Linked DNA regions of Homo sapiens: regions 1 and 2 are each linked to region 3. Evidence: fine-mapped expression QTL. A gene starts in region 3. Each other region holds a variant in brackets. All regions are shown on one strand. Distances are from middle to middle. Region 1 overlaps CBFA2T3 (CBFA2/RUNX1 partner transcriptional co-repressor 3). Region 2 overlaps GALNS (galactosamine (N-acetyl)-6-sulfatase). Region 3 holds the start of GALNS (galactosamine (N-acetyl)-6-sulfatase).

Region 1 (5,000 bases), 23 kb before region 3:
ACCCCCACGCACACAGCCACGCCCACGCACACAGCCACACCCACACACAGCCATACACACACAGCCACACCCACACACACAGCCATACCCATGCACACAACCCCCCCATGTACACAGCCACACCCACGCACAGCCATGCCCACACACAGCTACACCCACACAGCCATGTCCCCACACAGCCACACCTGTATGCCTATGCATAAACACGGCCATGGCTCTGCCCCATGGGGCCTGGGGCTGCTGGAGACAGCAGGGCTGTGTGGGCGCCCCTGAGCTCAGTGCCCTCCTGTGTGGCCTGCGCCGTCCCTGCGCAGCGGCTGGGTCCTTCACCTGAGCCCCCCTCCTCCCAGCTGTCAGCGCAGCCCAGGCATCTCGAGAGGCCCAGGGAGGAGGATTCCTAAAACCCTCATGGCGGGCCTTGCTTCCCTCCACTTACTTTCTGCTCACTGGCTCTTCCCAGAGTCTATCCTGAGTCTTGCAAGAAGTGTGGGCAAAAGCAGTGCCGAGGCCTCTTTGAGGCAGGACGTGTTCGGGGACGGCCCGGAACTGGGCTCCTCAGAACCCACCCACCCCATCCTGCAGCACGTCCCAGGAGGGGTCGCCAGGCATGGGGCCAGCACCCCTCCCAGCACTGTTGTCAGCCTCGCCCCTCGCCCTCATGCTTTTTGGAAGGGGAGCCCAGGCGGAAAGCCAGGTCCCTGAGGCAGAGCCCCGCTGAGCGGGTTAAAAAGGAGAATCCCAAACTCCTGCGTGCGTCTAGGCACGTGTCCATGTGAGTCTGGTACCCCCAGGCGCTCGGCAGTCCCAGGCTAGGGACCCATCTTTGCAAGCCATGGAGGTGGGCCCTCCCTCACCCCCTTACTCTCACGGGCGGTGGGCTGGTCGGGCACCCATCCTGTCCGGGGCTCTGGCCGAGTGGGCTGGGGGAGTGTCTGGTGCGTCCCGGTCCCTCTGAGGTGCTGAAGGCTGCGCCGCCCGCCCCCAGCTCCTGAACTGCATCATGGACATGGTGGAGAAGACGCGGCGCTCGCTCACGGTGCTGCGCAGGTGCCAGGAGGCCGACCGCGAGGAGCTCAACCACTGGGCGCGGCGCTACAGCGACGCCGAGGACACAAAGAAGGGCCCCGCTCCCGCCGCGGCCCGGCCCCGCAGCAGCTCCGCCGGTCCCGAAGGGCCTCAGCTAGGTGCGTGTGGGGTGTGGGGGGAGGGAGCAGACACGGGGTGCTCTGGTGGGGCGGACACCTGGGAGCTGTCAGGCAGGCAATGCAACGAAACACCAGGCAGAACAGTTTCGCTTGAGAAAGAGGCACCTTTTTCACTTTGTAGGAAAACACGGGCTGGTCTGCCAGGAAGCCTGGAGCTCAGAGCGTCTGGTGGGCCAGAGGCTCGGAGCTGGGAGGCCCTGAGGGTCTCTGCTTCTCCGCCTCAGCGACGAATGCTGACACAGGAGAGGCCCAGGACACACACGGCTCCCAGCCGAGTCCAAGGTCCACAGCTCCAATGCCCCCCGTGCCCGGGCACTGCCCTGGGTGCCTGAGCCAGACCTTGTCCGAGGGCACCTGGGCCTCCCCCCAGGGACGCACACACTCACGCCCTGCACTCAGGGCCCAGCCAGGGTGGGGAGGGCCCCAGCGTGGGAGGGGCAGCCGCGTGGCCCATCCTGTGTGACGCCGGCCCCTGTTTCAGACGTGCCTCGCGAGTTCCTGCCGAGGACCCTCACCGGCTACGTGCCTGAGGACATCTGGAGGAAGGCTGGTGAGTGGGGGTGCAGGGGCCTGGCCAGCAGAGCTGTGGGAGGCCAGGGCCCCAGATGCGCCTCTCACCGGCTCAGCTTTGAAGAGCTTCTGTCTCTCTCTGGGGGCTCAGGCTACAAGGCTTTCTGCATTCCGCTGTGTGGCTCACGGAGAGGTCAGAGTAGGTTCACACTTAGGGCAGGACAGCTGCTACCTGCGCCTACCAGGAAACGGACCGGTGGCCGCCCAGCAGAATAAAGTGGGTCCTGGACCTGCACACCCAGGAGGGCACGCAGAAGCGCACACACTCGGAGCCTGGGCGCGTCAGGCACGCGGGGCCAGAGTCCGGGCAGAATGGGGTCAGAACAGGGGCAGACGTGGAGCTGAGCGCTGGGCAAGGCTGTGGGGACATTTGCTCATGCCGTGGGAATCAGCCTTGGGGGAGGGGCTGGGGCAGAGCCAGATATGTGGGCAGCAAGAGGGGTTAGGGTTGGGGTTAGGGTTAGGGTTAGGGTTGGGCAGCGGTACCGGGGTCTCCAGCTGGCCTCAGGGTCTCTTTCAGTGGTGGAGTTGAAACATGGCCTCCCCAGCTGCGTGGGCAGTGCTCCCTGGAGGCTGCTCTGAGCCTACCCCATCTTAGCACAGATCAGGATCTGTGTGTGGCTGTGTGTGGGTCGGGGAGCATGGTCTTCAGAGGCCAGCCAGGTTAAAGGATGGCAAGTGCGGTGAGGATAACAGCAGGGTCTGGGGTGACAGCACAGAGCCCTGGACGAGGGGGCTTCCTGGGCTGCGTCTGGGTGGGGCCAGAGGTGAAGGCGGAACGGCAGAGTTATCCAAGTGCTTCAGGTCAGCAGCAGCTCCCCCGGCTCGCGTTAGGAATGCAGATTCCGGGTGCGCCCCTGGCTGACCAGGCCCTGGGGTGGGCCTCGCCCTTGCCCTGCAGGGGTGCAGTGCCTGGGGAGCCGCTGCGGTAGAGTGCAAGCTTTGACTTGTGACACCACGTGACCCAGCTTTGCACACACATGCCTGGGATGCCTGTGTTTATTTGCATGCACTTGTCTGCACAGGCATGAGGGCCATCAACGTGTGTCTGTGTGTGCACAGATGCTACGTGTGTTCAGCTGCCTACAGCCCCATCAACATGTGCCTTTGTGTGCACAGATGGTACGTGTGTTCAGCTGCACACAGCCC[CTG/G]TCCCCAGGTTGTGGCCACGCGTAGGAAGTCCAGAGACCCATCTGGGATGGCCCATGTGACCGCCAGCCCTGCCCATGTCCTTTGCAGAAGAGGCCGTGAATGAGGTGAAGCGGCAGGCCATGTCGGAGCTGCAGAAAGCCGTGTCGGACGCGGAGCGCAAAGCGCACGAGCTCATCACCACGGAGCGTGCCAAGATGGAGCGGGCCCTGGCCGAGGCGAAGCGGCAGGCCTCCGAGGACGCCCTGACGGTCATCAACCAGCAGGAGGACTCCAGCGAGGTAGGGCCACCCGGCCACGCTGACACCCATCCCCTGCCTCGGCTCCCGTGCGGTCCCACGCCACCCCCATGAGGATTCTGAGCCTCCACGTGGCATCAGCACAGTTGTCACGGGCATCCTGCAGCAGGCACGCCATCCCCGCCCACACTGTGCTTTATCAGCACAGAGATCCCACATGGTTCAGTGAGGCGTCCTATGGATGTCCCCGTTCTGTAGTTCCAGAAACTGAGGGCTCGAGAGGGTTGGCAGCTTGTCTGAGGTCACGGCCTTGGGAAGCGGTGGGGCCAGGACTCGAGCCCAGGTTGGCTGATGCTGAGATGGAGTTTCACTCTTGTTGCCCAGACTGAAGTGATCTTGTTGCTGTGGCATGACCTCGGCTCATTACAACCTCCGCCTCCCGGGTTCAAGCGGTTCTCCTGCCTCAGCCTCCCAAGTAGCTGGGATTACAGGCGCCCGCCACCACACCTGGCTAATTTTTGTATTTTTAGTAGAGATGGGGTTTTGCCACGTAGGCCAGGCTGGTCTCGAACTCCTGACCTCAGGTGATCCACCCGCCTCGGCATCCCAAAGTGCTGGGATGACAGAAGCGAGCCGCTGTGCCTGGCCTGAAACCCGTGTTCTCTAGCCTGTGAGAACAGGAGGATCCAGGAGAGCTGTGAGGGCCCCAGGTGGCGTCCGAGGCGCCCGGCTCCCTCCCGGTGCACACGGCAGGCCTGAGAATTACGATGCTTGTGCCCGTGCACCTGGGAGGCAGGCGGGGGCAGAGGACCCTCCGCGACCCTTTTCTGCCTTGTCCACGAAGAGGGGACAGGGAGAGACCCTTTCCAGGGGAGCCCCAGGACTGTCCCTTGAGATAGGGCGGATCTCTATCTGAAGCCCCTGTGTGCATCTGTGCCTGGGCCAGCCCCGGGGTGGGAGGAGATGGAGCCCCATCGATTCAGGGGTCTCTGCACCGGCCATTTCCACGCCTGCTCTCAGCTAGGGAGAAGCTAGACCACCACAGGCACAACTCTCACAGAGCTGGCACTGAGAAGGAAACACCAAACGCAGAAGTGAGGCGTGCAGTTTCGGGAGGTGGAAGTGTGTGGGGAGTGGGGCTGTGGAGGCCTCACGGCAGGTGACACCTGAGCAGATGCCGGGAGGAATGAAGCTGGCCACGCAGGCATCGGGGGAGCGGGCCCAGCGGAGGGACCGGCAGGGGCCAGGGCCTGGAGCGGGGACTGTGCCTGGCAGTGCCTAGTCCGCAGGGAAGCTGCTGCTGCAGTGGCAGTGAGGGCGAGGTGGGGTGGGAGGTGGTACCAGAGGCTTTGGAGGCCAAATAGGGACCTGGGCTTCTCCCCTAGGGCAGGTTTGGGCTTCCCACCCCACAGCCCAACCGTCTGTGAGAGATCCAGCCAGGCCCCAAGAAGAAATATGCTCAGGCTTTGTGTGGCATCTCCTACCTGCTCTGCCCACAGGCTTTTTGTGGCATCCCCCACCCCCTCTGCCCACAGGGATGCCTAGGGCACAACTCACCCTACGGGAAGGGAGCAGAGCCCACCACAGGGTGGGGGCAGAGGTGGAGGGGGTGCAGCAGAGGCAGGGGTGGGGCAGAGGTGGGGAGGGGGACGGGTGGGTGTGGATGCAGCAGAGGCGGATGGTGAGATCTCAGCAGCCTCAATCCTGCCGGGGCCACGCCCTTTGGTTTTGCGGTTTTGGAGCCTGGTGAGCTCAGGAGGGCTTCCTGGAGAGGAGGCAGGGGTCGTTGTCCAGTTAGCACAGCGCAGACCTATCTGGGTGGGCTGGAGCGTGAGAC
Region 2 (6,040 bases), 25 kb after region 3:
ATGAAGATGGACTCCTGCCCCCACCACAGCCCTGTCAAGTGGTTCCTGGGATGGAGCTTCAGCCTTTCCCCCGCTCGGCACTGATGAATGCCTGACCCATCCCCAGCGCCAACAAACCTGAACCCGCCTCTTCCCAGACCACGCGGGGGGGGGCCCTGCAGCCTCTTCCCAGACCACACGGGGGGGGCCCTACAGCCTCTTCCCAGACCACGCTGAGGGGGGCCCTGCAGCCTCTTCCCAGACCACGCGGTGGGGAGAGCCCTACAGCCTCTTCCCAGACCACGCTGAGGGGGGCCCTGCAGCCTCTTCCCAGACCACACGGGGGGGGCCCTACAGCCTCTTCCCAGACCACGCTGAGGGGGGCCCTGCAGCCTCTTCCCAGACCACGCGGGGGGGCCCTGCAGCCTCTTCCCAGACCACGCGGGGGGGGGCCCTGCAGCCTCTTCCCAGACCACGTGGTGGGGAGAGCCCTACAGCCTCGTCCCAGACCATGTCGGGGGGCGCCTACAGCCCAGTGTGCTGCGGGGATTGGGGGCTTCAGAGTTTCAAGTGATAGAAACCAGCACAGCTGAAAGCCAAAACAGAAGCATAGGCTCCCTCGCGCCACGTCCCACCAGATAGCTCCCCTGGGTGAGCCTGGCTCTCGTGCAGGCCCTCCGGACAGCTCCATCTCCCGCCCACTGGAGTCAGACCCACGAGTCGAGGCCCCCAACAGACCCATGTGTGGAGGGCTACAGGCAGCTCCCAGGAGGCAGGGTGCTGGGTGGGGGGAGGGTGGTGTTGGCCGTCATTCCCCATGGGGAGCCCGGGGGGGCCCACCTCGACGCCAGCACCCACAACCACCAGCCAGCAGGGGCAAGGGTCCCAGCGACCTGAGTCTTCATTTCTAAATGATGGAATGTTTCATACCAACAAATGGCATGTTTCATACCAACAAATGGTATATGTACCTATTTGTAACAAGATGAGAACCCACACACCCAGCACCCAGCACAAGACTAGAAACAGAACATCCCAGAGAAAGAAAGCAGGGGAGGGGGCTGGGCGTGGTGGCTCACACCTGTAATCCCAGCACTTTGGGAGGCTGAGGCGGGTGGATCACGAGGTCAGGAGGTCGAGACCATCCTGGCTAACACGGTGAAACCCCATCTCTACTGAAAAACAAAAAATTAGCCAGGCGTGGTGGCGGGCACCTGTAGTCCCAGCTGCTGGGCAGGCTAAGTCAAGAGAATGACTTGAACCCGGGAGGCGGAGCTTGCAGTGAGCCGAGATCGCACCACTGCACTCCAGCCTGGGCGACAGAGCGAGACTCCATGTCAAAAAAAAAAAAAAAGGGGATGGGAGAGAGAAGGAAAGAAAGGGAGGGAGGGAAGGAGAAGAAGCACAGCATGGCCTCCTGTGAGCCTGAGTGTCCCCTAGAAGTGGCCAGTGTCCCCAGCTCAGTGTCCATTGTCCCTTCACAGGTTCTGTGGCTCTGCTGCTGTGAGCAGGGCCCTCCCTGAGACAGGCCGGGTTGCGGGTGTTGGCGTGTTTGCCCGTGAGGGGCTCTGAGCAGAGCTGCCTGCGAGGTTCCGTTCAGAGGCTTCCCCACGCTGCCGCTCGGGGTTGGATGGCAGCGCAGGAAGGAGCTGCGGTGACTTTGCCTCCCCTGGATGGTTCACTTTTTCACTGCCGGAAAAATATTTTCTTTTTTTTTTTTTTTTTTTTTTTGAGAAGGAGTCTCGCTCTGTTGCCCAGGCTGGAGTGCAGTGGCGCGATCTCAGCTCACTGTAGCCTTGACCTCCTGGGCTCCAGCAATCCTCCCACCTCAGCCTCCTGAGTAGCTGGGACTACAGGACGTGCCGCCACACCCAGCTAATTTTTGTATTTTTGTAGAGATGGGGTTTAGCCGTGGTCTCTCTTTGGTAGAAACCAGTCTAGGCTAGTCTTGAACTCCCGAGTTCAAGCAGTCCCCCTGCTTCGGCCTCCCAAGGTACTGGGATGACAGGTATGAGCCACCGCAGCCGGCCCCTTCGTTTCCTTTTTCCCTTTTATTCAGGGGACCCGAAGCTGAGAGAGCCTCAAGTGGCTCAGGCTACAGCAGCAGGGGTGGCTTTTGTCCCTGACGTGGGCCCCCCACCCCCTTCTTCCATGTCTGGGAGTGAGCCAGGGATGGTGTAGTCACCTGAGATGGCCTTTGCCCCGTGACCACTTCCCACAAGTGATGGTTCAGAAACCAAAATCCGGTCTTGGGGGCTTGTCAGAAACACAGATTCCTACGCCCCACCGTGACTGACTGAGTCAGAACCATGGGGAGGCCAGAAGTTGGCTGCATTTTAAGTACCCCAAACACCGGGAGGCTTGTGAACATTCACGTTCGGGAAGCACCAGTCGGCAGCTGCGCACGTGGCACCCAGGGCCTCTGCTGCGGGAGTGTACCTCTCTGAGTCTTGCTGACACCGTATGGTTGTGTTTCCATTTCCTCAGTGGGCATGATGTCCCCACTTTCTCCAGGAGACTTTGCAGCCGCGGCATCTCAGATGAGCCCCTGGAGAGCCACCCCGAGGCTCGGATCATGCACTCCAGCCAGAGTGCCTTGGCCGGGCCCTTTGTCCCTATGACCAGTCTCAGTGACTCAGTGGGGAGGGAGGGGGAGGGCCTGGGGACATCTGGTCCCAGTGGCCTGACAAGGGCCCCTCTCTCCCAGGTGGCAGCAACGGCCCCTTTCTGTGTGGGAAGCAGACCACGTTTGAAGGAGGGATGAGGGAGCCTGCCCTCGCATGGTGGCCAGGGCACGTCACTGCAGGCCAGGTGAGTCAGCGTCCAC[C/T]GGTCTGCCGGGCAGCAGGTCCAGGCCTGCAGCCATCCCAGGGTGTGTGCGCCCCTCACTGGCCACCTCCCCCATGCACCCCGTGCTCATCCTCACCGCTCTCCTCCCCACGCACCCTGTGCTCAGCCTCCACGCACCCCATGCTCAGCCTCACCACCCTCCTCCCCACGCTCCCCGTGCTCGGCCTCACCGCTCTCCTCCCCACGCACCCCGTGCTCGGCCTCACCGCTCTCCTCCCCACGCACCCCGTGCTCGGCCTCACCGCTCTCCTCCCCACGCACCCCGTGCTCGGCCTCACCGCTCTCCTCCCCACGCACCCCGTGCTCGGCCTCACCGCTCTCCTCCCCACGCTCCCCGTGCTCGGCCTCACCGCTCTCCTCCCCACGCACCCCGTGCTCGGCCTCACCGCTCTCCTCCCCACGCACCCCGTGCTCGGCCTCACCGCTCTCCTCCCCACGCACCCCGTGCTCGGCCTCACCGCTCTCCTCCCCACGCACCCCGTGCTCGGCCTCACCGCTCTCCTCCCCACGCACCCCGTGCTCGGCCTCACCGCTCTCCTCCCCACGCACCCCGTGCTCGGCCTCACCGCTCTCCTCCCCACGCACCCCGTGCTCGGCCTCACCGCTCTCCTCCCCACGCTCCCCGTGCTCGGCCTCACCGCTCTCCTCCCCACGCACCCCGTGCTCGGCCTCACCGCTCTCCTCCCCACGCACCCCGTGCTCGGCCTCACCGCTCTCCTCCCCACGCACCCCGTGCTCGGCCTCACCGCTCTCCTCGGAACCAGGTCCCTCTCGGTGGCTCTCGGTGTGTAGGGCTTGCTGTGCTTGGTCAGACAGGCAGGAAGGCTCTCGGTGGGGACTGGAGCCACGTATACTGCCGTGTGTCACGTGGGTGCTGGTAATGACTGTGTGGTGAGGAGACATCCGTGGTCCAGTCACCGCAGCAGTCCTGAGTTAAATGGAGCTAAACAGGTTTCTTCCCTGCAGGACTTATCAGTGCCTTTAGCATGCTGGTGGGCACCATGAGCTTCTAGAAGGGGCTTAGAGCAGGCTGAGTGTTTAAAAACCTGTCTGTCTACTACAGAATCGGTCGTTTTTTCCCCCAAAGCACATCTTCTCAGGCCAGTGTCCTAAGGACACTCAGAGAACAGCAGCAGCCCGACACGAGACCGTTGGTGTCTGTCTGCCGCATGGGGTGCGGACCTCGGTGGTGGCCTGGGTCCTGGCTGGGCGAGGGTGCGCCCTGCCATCTCAGTGTGACCACCTTCATGCTGTCACTGCATCTCCTCTGGCCCAGGAAGCTGCCCCTCGGTTGAGAATCACACCGTGTGGTCTTCTGTAACAGGCACTTGAGCCAGACATACCCATCAACACGCGGGGCTGAGTCTGGTGTTTGTAAACGACCGCTGTTTCTTCACTGTTTCTTAGTCTTTTGCCCTCCCAATGGCCTCCAGAGGCAGCCATCCCCTTCAAGTGGCCCCACGAGGATGGGGGGGGCTCCCAGTGGCAGCTGGAACATCACACATGACGACAGCCAGAGTCAACATGGGGCTCATGGGGCTGAGTGAAGACGTGCGTGGGGCCAGCTCCTTCTGGAGGCTCCAGGAGATGTTCTGTTCCCTGCCTTTTCCCAATCCTAGTAGCTGCCCCATTCCTGAGCTCCTGGCCCCTCCACCGTCAAAGCCAGCAGCACGCAGGCATCTGTCCCTGGCCTTCCTGTTCCACGTTTTTTTTTTTTTTTTTTTTTTTTTTGAGATGAAGTCTCACTCTGTTGCCCAGGCTGGAGTGCAGTAGTGCAATCTCGGCTCACTGCAACTTCTACCTCCCAGATTCAAGCGATTCTCCTGCCTCAGCCTCCCGAGTAGCTGGGACTACAGGCATGCTCTACCATGCCCGGCTAATTTTTGTATTTTTAGTAGAGACGGAGTTTCACTATGTTGGCCAGTATGGTCTCAATCTCCTGACCTCGTGATCTGCCCGCCTCGGCCTCCGAAAGTGTTGGGATTACAGGCGTGAGCCACCGCGCCCGGCGCCTGTTCCACTTTTGAGGACCCTGTGGCTGTGTCCCACCCCACCCCCTGCTCACCCAGGCTGGCCTCCCTGTTTCGAGCCTCGCTGATGAGCGGCCTGCGTTGTGTCTGCCGCCTCAATTGCCTGGCCTGGTCGCGCGCCTGAAGGCCCAGGGATTGGCTGCTGTTCTGCCAGATCCTCCTCTTCCCCACTCATTCTACACATCAGGAAACTGAGGCCAGAGAGGAAGTCGTCTGTCAGGGTCCCCCAATTACTAGGGAGCAGAGGTGGGAGCAGGCGCCTGGCTGTGGATCCTGCACTCCTGCCCACCATGCCTGGGCAGTCCCCTGTGTCCCCAGCAGCCAGTGGGACTGGGGGCGGCAACTGCCAAGGGCGCCTGTTCTCTACAGCTGTCTGGGCCTCCCTCAGACCCTGCCCAGGGCAGCCTTTGTCTGACATGGGACTCCTGGGCCACCCCAAGTTCCCAGGACCCTGAAGGTGGAAGAGACCCCACGGTTCACTGAAAAGGCAGCTGCGGCTCCGTGTGAAGGGCAGAGTGGCTGTGAGAGTGACCGCCTTGTTGTGCAGGAGAAGCATGGGTGGTGGGCACGGCCTCCTTTGTGGTGTGGGGTGCCCCTAGGACAGAATGCAGCTGTGCCGCCCCCTCCACTCCCCTGAGCGCCATCCCCCTGAGGGTAGGGATGGGCCATTTGGTTTCTTGTGTGGGGGCACCTGCAGGGAGTGGCCGGTGGTCACTCAGTGAACACTGTGACGTTGGCATGAGACTCAGGAACTGTGTAGCTCTGGGAGACGTTGGCATGAGACTCGGGACCCGCGTAGCTCTGGGAGACGTTGGCATGAGACTCAGGAACTGTGTAGCTCTGGGAGACGTTGGCATGAGACTCGGGACCCGTGTAGCTCTGGGAGACGTTGGCGTGAGACTCGGGACCCGCGTAGGTCTGGGAGACGATGGCGTGAGACCCGGGACCCGCGTAGGTCTGGGAGACGATGGCATGAGACTCGGGACCTGCGTAGGTCTGGGAGATGTGAGGTTCCCCACTGCAGTGGGTGCCCACCAGGCCGGGACAGGGCTGGGGCTCTGCTCCCCAGGCTGGGAGCCACCCGTGGCTGTGCTCAGCAGCAGCCTGGAAAAGGTGAGGGGAGCCACCCCAGCGCCGCCCGGCTCCATGCGTAGTGGGTTCAGGGACGTCTGTACCCCACAGAC
Region 3 (6,686 bases):
GGTTGTAGAAGGGGTTGCACATCACGTCTGTGTAGGAGTTGTGTAGCTTCCGGAACATCTGAAAAAGACCCAGCAAACCATGACCTTGCCACATACACACAGCCACTGCCAGATTTTTAGTTTCTCAGCATTTCAAAACAAAGTCAAAAAGGAAAAACAAAACACCCACTCGGGCGTGGCCCTCTAACTCCCTGACTTACGCTGCGAATTTCGTTGTCTCGAAGGGCTGTGTTGGAGGAATCTACCACCATGACAAACTTCACCTTGGAGTTGGTGACGTAGCCGTATCTGCACAGCTGGTTAGGGAAGGCACTCGTAACACAGGGACTGCCGGTGGAGGGCCCTCTGTGGGCCCTCACTTTGGAGAAATGTGGCAACCTTGAATCACAGGAAATGCCCATGCTGGGCTGGTCCTGCAGTGGCCGTGCTGGGTACAAGCCTAAATACTTTGCTAGGGCGACGTCTGGTGTTTGCAGGAGAAGCGAAGAGCAGGCAGCCAAGCCTTACCCAGTTCACACTCCAGGAGCCGAACCACCTAGACTCCGAGTCTGTCTGTCTGGAACACCTCACCCTCTTCATGAATCAATGCCTGGCCCGGAAAGTTAACTGCAAAACCAGAGGCTTCGTGAACAAGGCGGATCCCCTCTCTAGAGGCCACATTATTTTGTAAAATAGTGGCTACTAGCAAATGTCACCATGGACAGGCTACATGATGACTTTTGGGAAGGTCTTTGAATTCCATGGCCTCAAGTGATTTGTCCCAAGGGACTAGACGAGTGTCTAGTGACATAAGAGGCAAGGCCTAATGAAATAAATGAAACTATTATCCCCTGCTCAAAGGTGGTGGCTCCCCCTGAAAAGCACAGAAAGAAATCCTTGCAGGTACAAAGCAGAAGTGTCCCACTTCCTCTGCAAACCAGACAACGGACACGTGCAAACCAAAACATTCTACGGGGAATTCTAGCCTTGCTTTTCCCAAATGGCTCTTCCAATGAAAGAGAAGAGTTACAGGCCTTCATTCACCTCAAGCTACCCTAATTCCCTGGCTGGCTAAAAACTCTCACCTCTTTTTCTTCTAAAAGGTTTCAAGTTATCTGATCCTAAAGTACATCTTGCAACTGTAGGTCCTCCCTGACACACACCCTGCCCTGAAAGATACACCTTGTAGTCCTCCGTGGGGTAGAGCAGGCCCAGGTACAGCTCCCTCTGGTCGACCAGGGCCTTCCCCATTGCGGAGATCTTCTCATCCACCACGTCCAGAGATGTGTGCACCATGTAGTGGAACTTCAGCTCGTTCTCCGTAGGGGTGCTGCGAATGTAGAGGGGGTAATTCTGCAAGAAAGGATGACGGCGACTGAAAGGACAAGACTCCACCCAGCGCACACCAGCTCTGAACTATGCTGCAGAGCCGTGACCTGCAGCCACCCGGGGAACGCATTCCCATGCTCTAAGGCCCACCGCTTCATTCTCTATGCCGCAGTGGGCACTGCCTTCAGGGGATCCCAGCTAACCTAAGGAGATTTATGTGTTGTTTGCAAAGCAGCAGCAGTAGGGTGGGCGGAAAAGAAAAAATGAATCAGAAAAATGGGCCTGAGCACAGCCTGCCGATCAAGCCTGGCACCTGGGCACGCCTCTCACCTTCTCCTGGAGGCCACTCTGCCTCAGCCCACCTCTAACTCTGCATGGCTCACCCAAATACAGCACCCTCAATACTGGCTTTTCTTCACCTTGACAGTGACCCTTTTACTAAACCCTTCAAGACTCAGCTCAAATTCCCTTCATCTCTGCATTTCTGACCATTGGAAGCCCAGAATTAACAGCTTCTTTCTCGGTCTTTCACACACCACCATTTACCCTGTGTGTGTTCAGCACTGGGTCCTGCACAAATACAGTGAACAAGAGTCCTCGCTACCCTCGTGGGGAGTGATACCTAGTCAATAAACCCACAAACAAGCAAATGATCATCTTGGCCAAGAGGGAAGCCCATGAGCAGCTTAGCAGCAGCCACCGCCCAGCAGGGAGCGGTCTCGAGTCTGGTCTCGGGAGACCCTGGCTAGGAAATGAAGGCTCCGTGCAGCAGGAGCGTGTGGGCAGCCACCCAGCTCAGTCTTAGCCTTCAGAAAATGCTTTCCAGTTGAAATGTATGTGGGCCAGTAAAGAGGATGGGAGCTGGGGAGAGGTGTTCCGCGTGCAAAGGCCCACAGGTGAGAGGGCAGAGCATGTCCAGGGAGCTGCAGAATTGTTTGGTTGGAGCGGAGAGTGCCAAGGGTTATGGGGGGAAAGGATCCCAGAGCAGGTTATTCAGACAGCATCCTAAGGCAACGAGAAGCCACTGCAGAGGTCTCAGGCAGAGGCGTGACAGGATCCGATTTGTTTTTAACTCGGCTCCGGGGAGACTGGCAGGAGGGCCGGGGCCGCCGTCCGCGGGGAACCAGCGCTGGACGGGAGAACGGGCAGAACCTGCTGAGGACGGAGGACGGAGGTAGTGCCCGGGACCACCTAGGTTTCTGGTGGGTCCTGGCGGGGAGGAGACCTGCTGCGCCGAGGGGTGCGTTCAGCAGCGGGACGGGCGAGCGCGGAACTGGGGTCTCAGTCAGGGTCTGCCTGGCGGCTCGTCCACCGCGAAGCCCCTGACCGCTGGAGCTCGGCGAAGGCCTCCTCCAGGTCCCATTTCCTAAGGTGCCTTCTAAGCCCAGGGAAGAAGTAGAAAGAAAGCGGAGAGCCGAGGATGGTGCGAGCCCGGACGCCCCACGCCGCGCGTACGCACCTCCTTGGCAATCACCGCGATGCACACCGCCATCTTGGGAGGCTCGGCGCCAGGCACCGCGTCACGTGACCCGCCGCTGGTCACGCGGCCTCCAAAGCCCCGCCCCATCCGCACACAGCTGGCTCAGGCCCCGCCCCACTGGTCACGAGGCAGTCCAGGCCCCGCCTCCCGTCCCTCCGCGGACTCTGGCCCCGCCCCGCGAGTCACGTGGCCGTCCAGGCCCCGCCCCGCAGCCCAGCCGGAAGGGCCGGCGGACGCTCGCTAGGTCGGCTCGCTGGCCGGGGCTCCGCGGCTCCCGTGGTTGCCATGGCGGCGGTTGTCGCGGCGACGAGGTGGTGGCAGCTGTTGCTGGTGCTCAGCGCCGCGGGGATGGGGGCCTCGGGCGCCCCGCAGCCCCCCAACATCCTGCTCCTGCTCATGGACGACGTGAGTGCGGGCGGTGGGACGGGGCAGGGCCGGGGTGGGGCGGGGAGGGGAGGGGCGGATGGAGGGAGGAGCGAGGTGGGGGAAGGGCGGGCGGGGTGGGGGGAGAGGTGAGGGGAGGCCCCTTGGGGAAGGGGGGAGGCCCCGCGCGGGGAGGAGGAGGGGGAGGGGACGGGGGGTATCCCCGTGCGGGGAGGGGGAGGCCCCTCGGGGAGTGGCCGCGGGGTCCAGGCGTGGGGTCTCGGCGGTCACCGATCACCACACGCGCTGCCACTGTGCTGCATGACCGGGACAGCGTCCTCCCTGGCAGGTGGGTGGCCGGCGTGCTACCGGGCCCTGCCTCCCCCGTCTGACCTTTCCCGCCCTCTACTCTTGGGAAAGGTGGGCGCGCAGCGTGGCCTCCCCAAAGGGAGGAAGAGGCTGCTCCTGCCGCCCTGCCTGAGAGCTGCGTCGCCCTAGGAATCACTCCCGCCACCTCGGGCCGCCGGGTCCCCCCGCTGGGCTCCAGTCTTACCTGACGGCTGTCTCTGTCCTCTGGAGAATGCTGAGCGAAGGTCAGGTGTCCCTAAGGTCTGAAGAACTGAAAGGCTGGAATGTCTCCTGGTGGGCAAGTGCGGGGTCAGGGGTCACAGCCAGCCTGGAGGCCTCCTTCCCTAACTCCTTGTGGGAGCCACCTGGAGACTCAGGAATGAGCCTGCCTGGGGCATGGGTCACCGTGCAGGACCCCAGACACACCTGGGTTGAAACCCTACTGTCTCCAAGCTTGGGGGTCACTTCCATTCTTGAACCTCAGCTGCCACACCTGGGGGGTTACACCTGTCCCGCCGTGCTCACGTTGTGTGTGAGGACTGGGACGACACCGAGTACCAGACAGTTTTGGGCCGTCGGTGTCGCTCAGCCCCTGTGTGCTGGCTCCGACCAGCAGAGACCCTGACAGGTGCCTTCAGACCCACCTGTGCTGACCAGTGGGGGCCACGGGCCACACCCAAGGGCTGGGCAGTCGTGGCTGTCGGAATTGGAAGGTGCTGGTAGTGTAAAATACACAGATTTAGAAGACTTGGTGAAAGAAAAATAATGTAAAATATCTCACTTAACAATTTTATTAAATTAATGGTTTTTTAACATAAAGATATACTTGAAAAGATAACAGACACCACCCATAATTTCCCCACCCAGGGGTGACAGCCGACAGTCCTGGGCAGCTGCTTTTCCATCTCATATGTCTTATTTGTGTGCAGTGACTGCTTTCCAGAGCACGCTCTCCAGCGCCCAGGGGTCCGTGTCCTGACAGCAGTAGCCGGGCCTTTCTCTGCACTGAGTGGCATCTCCCTCCTAAAGATACTTTGCTTCAGAATTTCATCCTTTCACTTTTGAAGTTCCTCTGGGCCAGTGTAGATACTTTGTTTCAGAATTTCTTCTTTTCATTGTGTAACTCCTTCTGGGCCAGCATAGCTTCGCTGGATGAGCTGGGCTCTGCAGGTGAAGCCTCCCTGTTAAGTTTCTGCTTTTCCTGACTTTCTCAGAGGACAGAGGGGTGAGGCGGGGCAGCTCATGAATAATTTTTTATGTTGAAGACTTGTCGAAATAATATTTTGGTTATGTTGGGTTAAATAAAATATAAAGTTAGTCTGTATTTCACCTACTTCTGCTTTTCTAATGTGGCTCCCGGTAAATAGGGAATTGCATGTGGACTCACCCTACGTTTCCATAGGACAGCAAGGGTTCAGGCCGTGCAGGGTGGAGGGGTGGGGTGTGGCCACCGGGGCACATGTGGGGGAGGGTGACAGGAAGCCCCGCCCACCTGGGCACCTGTTCTGTGGCCTCCACTGTGTGGCTTGTGGGGTCGTTTGGCAGCTGACGCCTAAAGAACCCCAGAGGAGCTGTGTCCTGGCCGGTAGGTGTACTTGTAAGGACTTTCTGATGCAGACAGCAGAAGATGAAGTCAAAGTGACAAGCAACAGTGGGGATTCCCTGGCCCTCCTGAGTCGACAGACCAGGGCCGCCTGGCGAGTTTCCCCTTTCGTGGCTCTGCTGCCTCTGAACTGGCCACATCCTCACTCAGCCTGTGATGGTCCTAGGTGACTCCAAGTCACCCCTGCAGTCAGCAGACCCAGTGGGAGGTTGGCTCTGCCCGTGTCATGTTAGCGTGATGTGGGTCTCAGCCCTGCGCCAAGCACACTGGGGGAGGGGCACATGCTGACCTGTCCAGCCCAGGCCTCGGAGCCTCGGGCCTACCCCAGAAGGGAGACTGCCCCTGATCATCTCATCTGCCTGGACCCAGCAGAGAGGGGGTTCCCTGAAGGGCCCATGGTGCAGCTGCCAGGACAGGGCAGGGATGCTGGCAGGTGAGAGCCACAGAAGCTCACAGTGGAGCCCCGAGGTGCCCTGACGTGGCCCAGGGTGCAAGGGGGTCCTCACAGGCTGTCTTCTCTCCTTGGAGTCCGGGGCTTCCTCCGCAGCCCTGTCCACACCTCTTCCTGCACTGCAGACCGGTTGTTTCTGCCAGGGCGCTGGCGTCTGAACCTGCAACAGGTCATTCGGCCTCTGGCATGACATGGGATGGCTTGATGACCCACAGCTCTGGGCCCAGCACCACTTGAGGACGAGTGTGCATGTCTCAAGTTCAGATTTTGGAGCATGGCCCTCCAGGGACCGGCTGCCTCCAGCCCAGTCTCCCCCTATCCAGTCCTCTGTGGCTGGGCAGTGGGGGGCCTGGGCCCCCCTTTCGTCTAAGCAAGTGCAGTTTCAGAAAAGGGTTGTCCCCAAAACTAGCTTATTGCACCCCTCATGGCCAGAAGCCACTCTCCAACTGGTCACACTGACCCGGGAGAGAACCATTGCCCCCAGAGTCGGGACCAGAAGGGGAAGCTGGGACTCAGGGGTGAGAGCAGCTGGCAAGAGCCCCCACCTGTCCAGGGGGAGCTGAGCCGGGCAAGGACGGGTCTACCTGCACTCCCCAGGGCTGCCCTGCCCTGGCCTTTCACTGACCCACGGTCCAGCGCGGCCTGGCTTCGTAGTACCCTGGGCACCTGCTGCGTGAGTGAGGAAACCTGCGTGGCCCACTCTGCTCTCCAGGGCTTCTGGGGCCTTGGAGACAGGTGAGACCCAGTGACAAGTTCCACTCTGGCCCACACACAGCTCCTGCCTCCCAGGGCGAGCAGCACTCTGTGTCTCCACTCCTTATTTGGAAAATAGGGTTAAGGAGGGTCAGCCCTGACCACAGAGGAAGTGGAGAGTCAGGGCCACCCAGGCCAGCTCCTGTTGCCACAGCAGCCTCGTCGAGCCACCAGAGTCCGGGGAGGGTTGCTCAGTGCCCCTCGTTTGAAACAGACAAGCACTGGCCTGCTCGTCTTCATAATAATCCCATAGCAACCAGTAGGAATGGAAACTGCGTTTCTTAAAACTCTGAAATTCTGAAGGATACTGATCCATGGCTCACAGCTGTGCTCGCTGAACGTGGACAATCATTTGGGGGCTTTTAGGCCTTTTTTTTTTT

The links. PIP is the estimated chance that this variant, and not a neighbour inherited with it, causes the effect.
Region 1: its variant is fine-mapped to the expression of GALNS in whole blood (INTERVAL, PIP 0.96).
Region 2: its variant is fine-mapped to the expression of GALNS in whole blood (TOPMed, PIP above 0.99).

Annotation. Positions count from the first base shown.
Region 1 is chr16:88,877,475-88,882,474 of GRCh38, reverse strand. It overlaps CBFA2T3 (CBFA2/RUNX1 partner transcriptional co-repressor 3), which reads left to right. Exons shown (of 12, transcript NM_005187.6): 9 at 986-1,184; 10 at 1,687-1,755; 11 at 3,015-3,205. Among named protein-coding and RNA genes, the nearest start is that of PABPN1L, 13 kb to the right of the region's middle. The variant CTG/G (reference allele first, on the strand shown) is at 2,925.
Region 2 is chr16:88,828,748-88,834,787 of GRCh38, reverse strand. GALNS (galactosamine (N-acetyl)-6-sulfatase) reads left to right here. Exons shown (of 14, transcript NM_000512.5): 9 at 2,687-2,790. Among named protein-coding and RNA genes, the nearest start is that of APRT, 20 kb to the right of the region's middle. The variant C/T (reference allele first, on the strand shown) is at 2,807.
Region 3 is chr16:88,853,265-88,859,950 of GRCh38, reverse strand. It overlaps GALNS (galactosamine (N-acetyl)-6-sulfatase), which reads left to right and starts at 3,004. Exons shown (of 14, transcript NM_000512.5): 1 at 3,004-3,193. The coding sequence starts at 3,074. It overlaps TRAPPC2L (trafficking protein particle complex subunit 2L), which reads right to left and starts at 2,824. Exons shown (of 5, transcript NM_001318525.2): 1 at 2,768-2,824; 2 at 1,160-1,332; 3 at 201-288; 4 at 1-58. The coding sequence starts at 2,800. It overlaps LOC107983950 (a long non-coding RNA gene), which reads left to right and starts at 3,371. Exons shown (of 2, transcript XR_933884.3): 1 at 3,371-3,500; 2 at 3,650-4,823. RefSeq lists silencers at 2,872-3,271, 4,941-5,010.